Regions from separate parts of the Homo sapiens genome. Here region 1 is linked to region 2. Evidence: fine-mapped expression QTL. A gene starts in region 2. The other region holds a variant in brackets. All regions are shown on one strand. Distances are from middle to middle. Region 1 has its middle 43 kb from the start of OGFRL1. Region 2 holds the start of OGFRL1 (opioid growth factor receptor like 1).

Region 1 (3,020 bases), 43 kb after region 2:
TTGTAAAGTAAGAAAGAGAAGATGAAGCCAGGAAGGTGCTATAAGCAGGACAAAGAAGAAACAGCAAAGGAAGCACAAGCTGAAGAGGAAACTGCTTATGGCTTAGCGCAATATCTTCTGGGACAGTGCATGATACAGGAGGTGGCAGTGACAGTAGTTCAGTGGGAAAGAAAGATGTGTTTGGTGACAGCATTTTGGTGAGAGGAAACAGGAGAAAATAGGGAAAAGATTAAGGGCAGAGAGAGACCAGATGGTGATCATAATGAGCCAAAACCCAAAAATGTCATGGACTCAAACCTTAGCCGTAGAGACCCAATGAAATGGAAAATTAACAAAAATAGAAAAAATATAATTTATTTTCATAATTTAATGTATTTGCATCATATCTTATCAAAAAGTATTTGAGGTGAATTATTGAAAGAGAAGATGTTTATTATAAGATTAATAAAACAGAACCAAAAGAGGAAGGGGCAGCATATGGCAACCATAAACATCAGCAGAGCGGCTGTGTGTGAGCAGATACCCTAGAGCTTCCTCCTAGCCCTGATGAAGAGGGAAACTTTTTAAATCATAAAACATTCATTAAATATCATTACCTGAAATTAGGGTACCCACAAAATATTTGTCAGAATAAATTTTCCTGGTGAGAAACAGCTCCTGGGTGACAATAGGAGTAAGATTTAACCAATAATAACCTCAATATTTGTTTCACAGCAAATAGAGAAATTAAATTTGCATAGCTAATTCTGAAAACAACCTAAGATAAAAACTCATGGCTAACAATTGAAAAAACGTATCTACAAAAGCAATGACAAAAAAGTCATTCTCTAAATGTGTAGTCTGACTTGATCCAAGGACATTGATTCATAGTGATACAGGAGGCGGGTAGGGAAGTGCTAAGCAGAGAAAGGCGGGGTCCCTGGGGAGGGCTCCCTCGGGCCTGTGCCCATGGACCTAAGTGAGGACAAGCATTTCTGTTTCCGTGCCCATAAAGTTGCCTTTTGGCCTGCCACACCCCCAATCCTGTGCCCATAAAAACCCGAGAGACCGTAGCGGGCACAGACACAAATGGCTGGTCGTCAAGAGGAGCAGAAAAGCAAACACACAGACACCAGCAGACATCGGCAGGCCATCGGTGGCGGGACAAGGCAGAATTCAGCTGGGGTGGTTAGAGGAGAGTCCCGCTGCTGGGTGGCCCGGCTGCTGGGTGGCCCGACTCCAGGGGGAGACCAACTTCCCAACCCATCCTCCTTCTGGCTCCCCATCCACCTCGCTGAGAGCAACCTCCACCACTCAATAAAACTTTGCACCCATCCTCCAAGCCCACATGTGATC[C/T]GATTTTTCTGGTACACTAGGGCAAGAACCGGGGATACAGAAGGCCCTGTGTCCTTTCGATAAGGCAGAGGGTCTAGTTGCGCTGATCAACACAAGCCAACTACAGACCGCAAAACGGAAAGAGCGCACTGTAACACACGCCCACTGGGGCTTCGCGAGCTGGAAACACTCACCCTAGATGCTGCCATGGGGTCGAAGCCCAAAAACGCTCCCCGTGACCTGCCCGTCTGCATGCTTCCCCTAGTGGTTTGAGCAGCGGAGCACCAAAGAAGCGAGCCACACCCCTGGCGCACACCCGGCGAGGGGGATAAAGGAACACTCCTCCCATTTCAATATTTAATAAGCACTTATGCTGGGTACTGGGACATGTTTGTGAACAAAATATCCATGATCCCTGCCCTCATGGAGCTTACATTCTGGTAAAGGAGTCAGAACATAAAGTAAAAAAGATATAGAAATAAAATTACCGCAAATTATGATAAGAGCTATGAAGAATATTAACACTGCTATCAGGAGTTAAAGGGGCTGGAGGGTGGTTTCCTTGTGTAGATTCGGTATCAGGAAAGGCCTCTTTGAGATGACATTAGGAGTATCTGGAGTATTGAATAGACCCACGACACAAGATAATCTTTCCCAGCTAACCTCTCTGCCAGGCTTTCAACATGCACCATTTAAACAGTGTCTGTAAAACTATGCACTCTAGGCAAATTACCTGGAGTGCAGGTATTCTGTACGAGAATTAAGAAAATGTCATGAATTTTAGAAACCAAGAAGCTGGTTTTAAAATTAACAAGTCTAAGCAACATTTTAGCTCAAATGCAAGCTAGAGATGGTACTGAATAAATAGTGGGGTTTAGAGAAGACAGCCATAAAATATGAAAGAAATACAGACATGGGTTTCAGGTGTTGTTTTAAATTCGAATTGTGTTAACAACAAGTTTAGTGAGTCCAAGTCTTCCTTCCATACTCAGAGGGTCCTCTGGATCTCTGAAGTGACTCCGAGCCACCATGCCCTGGGCAGCTCCATTCTCACAAGCCCCTAGACTACACTAAAAGGGTCCTGCCTACCATGCAAGATTGAGGGATATCTCAATCCTTCTCATATGAGCAGCTAAACGAGTCTCTTTAATTTAATCATCCAATATTGTACTATGTTTAAAAATTAGTTTCTTTTGGGTGGAAAATTCTGTTTGCATAAAAAATTAAGTGAAAACAAATATACAATGAAAAATAATTCTCCTTCTGACTTCAGTCTCAAAATCTCTAACCTCCGTCTCCAAAAGCTGCCAATGGTAAACAGTTTCTTGTGTATAATTCAAGATATGCTTAATGTACACACAAGCAATGATACTTGTATTACACCCATGCACCCTGCCACTGTCCCCCCAACACAATGTAAACCCTAATAGCGGGAATAGTACATATATATCCCATGTCACCTTTCCTCTCATTTAGCAAAATATCTTGGAGGTTATACACTGCATTTTATAGATCTTAGTTTGATTAAGATCTTCCAGTTGATGCTTCTGTTTGTGCCCCCACTCTTTGCTGTTATTAACAGTGCTAAAATGAACATTCTATATAAGTATTTTTGTGCCCATGTGTGAGCATATCTGGAGGAAAAATTCCTTATTTTAGTATTATTTTTTAATTTCAATAGGTTTTGGGGGGACAGGTGGTGTTTG
Region 2 (2,745 bases):
ACACAGTTGGATCAACAAGTCTTCTGGTGAAATAAGATTCGTGAAGAATGCCCTGAATCCTAGGTTGAAAGGCCTGAGTTGGGCAGAACAGTGACGTATGAACTTCAGATGAGGGCCTACACTTCTGACGGCTTAGACCCCACTGTAGGGGAGAGCGCTGGCTGCTTGCACTTGTAGCCCCACCTTATTCTGAGTAATTTTTTTTTTTTTTTTTTTTTTTTTTTTTTTTACCAATAACACACACTAGAGGGGTTGTCAAAATCCTCTATTTTTAGACAGGTTCCTCCCACCCCACCTTCGCATAATCCAGCTGCTCTGCAGAGGCAAAGAAAACACCCATTCAAGTTGGGTTCTGCCTTGAGGGACTTCCTCGCCGTGCCCTCGGCCAGGCCCCAGGCCGGCAGTGGGAGGGTCCGGCGCTTTGGGCTCCTGCAGGCCCCCGGGCTCCACCGGGAGACAGGTCAGCCGCGGCGCGGAGGGGTCGGGTCGCAGCGGCGAGCAGCCACCTGGCGCCCCTGGCCTCCGAGCGCGAGGGCGGCTTGGCACTTGCCCCTCTGGGGTGTCGGGGCGCCCCAGCCCGACCCGAGGCCACCGCTGGGCCGCGTACCTGCTCGGCGCCCGCCGCCTCGGCGTCCTCGTCCGGCGCGGGGCTGGCGCCGGGCCGCCCGCCGGCTTGCTCCGGGGGCTGCGCGGGCTGCTCGGACTCCTGCCCCGGGCCCTCGCTGCCGCCGCCCGGCCCTGGTTCTTCGGGCTCGGGCTCCGAGTCGGTCTGCCAGGTGGAGTCGCAGTCCTCCACGGTGGTGGGCTCGCGGAAGCTGACCCCGCCGAGCAGGTTGCCCATTGAAGAGGCGGCGGCGGGCGCGGGGCTGCGGGGCTGCGGGGCGCAAGCTGCGGCAGGCGCTCTAGGGCCCGGGCATGGCCGCGGCGAGGGCGCTGGGCGGCAGCCTAGGCGCGCCCGCCCCGCACTGCCTCAGCGCGGCGAGCGGCGGACAGGCACCCTCGCGGGGAGGAGCCGGCGGCCCCGGGACCGCCGCCGCGCGCGCCTGAACCCGCCCATCCGGCTCCTTCTCCTCCCCACAGGCGGGAGCTGCCGCCGCCCAGAGCCCCCAGGGGAGCCAACTGCGGCCCCCAGCCGAGCGCCACCGGCCCCAGGCCGCGCCTCCCTTCCACGTTTCTCCCCGGAACACCTGCCTTCACGCGGCCCCCGGCGGCCCCCGGAGTGGATTGGGGTCGGCTACTACCCTCGCCGCCCGGAGCCGGGGGACGCCCTCCCGGGGCATCTCCCAGCTGAGCGGGATGAGGGATCCCGCCCAGCTCCTGGAGCTGAGGACTGGCGTGGACGTGGTGTCGAAGAGGTGTCACCGTCAGCAGGCGGGTCCTGTCCACACCCCCTCCCCCTCTCCCTGGTCCAGGAGGAAGACACTTTAGCTGCAGCAGAGGACAAAAGCTGATGGTGCCGGGCACCATATAAACAGGAAATCCCAGCTGCCACAACTGTACTTAGGGCAGCCACCTAGAGTCCTTGTGGTCTAGAAAAAGTCAGAGCTATCAGTCACCTCATCTAATGAGCAATCGCTCGTGAAACAAAAGGAACAGTAACAACTGGACCATCACATTGATTTGCGGGTAACCTTACACCCACTACAAATTGGTGCTCCGTGTAGGCAAAAATCTCAGAATCAGTAGAACAGATGGGCTGTTTCTAATGGAAGAAGCCTCGGCCCTGTGGTCTGTTCTGCAAATGAAAGGAGGAGGGAGAACTGTGTTAGGGAAGTTCTTTCTTTTTTCTGTTCTGTTCTGTTCTGTTCTGTTCTGTTCTGTTCTGTTCTGTTCTGTTCTGTTCTGTTGTTCTGTTCTTTCTTTTCTTTCTTTTTGAGACAGAGTCTCCCTCTGTTGCCCAGGCTGCAGTGCAGAGGCGCGATCTCGGCTCACTGCAACCTCCGCCTCCTGGTTTCAAGCAATTCTCCTGCCTCAGCCTCCCAATAGCTGGGATTACAGGCATAAGCCTATAGAAGTACGTAAAGATAAGGTAGTATTATCAAATATGTGACCCAGAGAAAAGTGACTGTTGTAAAATGTGTCTTCTGGCTTTCTAACTAGAAGGGAAGCCTCTTTGCAGGCAGCCCCCGTCTGAAAGTGTGTCTGTATTTACAGTGCTGTCAACTTGGTGGATGCTCAGTAAACATTTGTTAAATATGGACTAAGAAAGATGAGCTAGATATTTGAAGATTAAACTGTTGAACTTGGAATGAATAGTTTCTTTTCAAATGTTTCATGATGAAGTAGGAAGCCAAATCATGTTAGATGGACTGTTTCTAAGGGAAGAATCAGGTAAACCAGCTGCCTATTCCATGGATAAATCAGGATTACCTAAGCTCTTCATGCACTGCAACAAGACATCTAGGCTGTAGCTCTGTCACTAATCAGTTTCTGACTTTAAGTAGGTCACATGAACCTAAACTTCCTCATTTGTAAAATGAAACCAGATCTCTGGGAGCCCTTCCAGCTCTGACCTTCTGTGATCCTATGACTGGGAAAAGCTCTGAAACTAATAAGAAATAGACACGGGGTGCACAAAAAGACTTTTGGGGCCGGGTGCGGTGGCTCACGCCTGTAATCCCAGAACTTTGGGAGGCCGAGGCGGGCAGATCACCTGAGGTCAGATGTTCAAGACCAGCCTGGCCAACATGACGAAACCTCATCTCCACAAAAAAATATAAAAATTAGCCTGGCTTGGTGGCGGGC

What was found. PIP is the estimated chance that this variant, and not a neighbour inherited with it, causes the effect.
Region 1: its variant is fine-mapped to the expression of OGFRL1 in whole blood (TOPMed, PIP above 0.99).

The regions. Positions count from the first base shown.
Region 1 is chr6:71,243,988-71,247,007 of GRCh38, reverse strand. No RefSeq gene overlaps it. Among named protein-coding and RNA genes, the nearest start is that of OGFRL1, 43 kb to the left of the region's middle. The variant C/T (reference allele first, on the strand shown) is at 1,336.
Region 2 is chr6:71,287,033-71,289,777 of GRCh38, reverse strand. It overlaps OGFRL1 (opioid growth factor receptor like 1), which reads right to left and starts at 967. Exons shown (of 7, transcript NM_024576.5): 1 at 608-967. The coding sequence starts at 841. All of the region lies in intron 3 of LOC124901339 (a long non-coding RNA gene), which reads left to right. RefSeq lists a silencer at 255-1,314.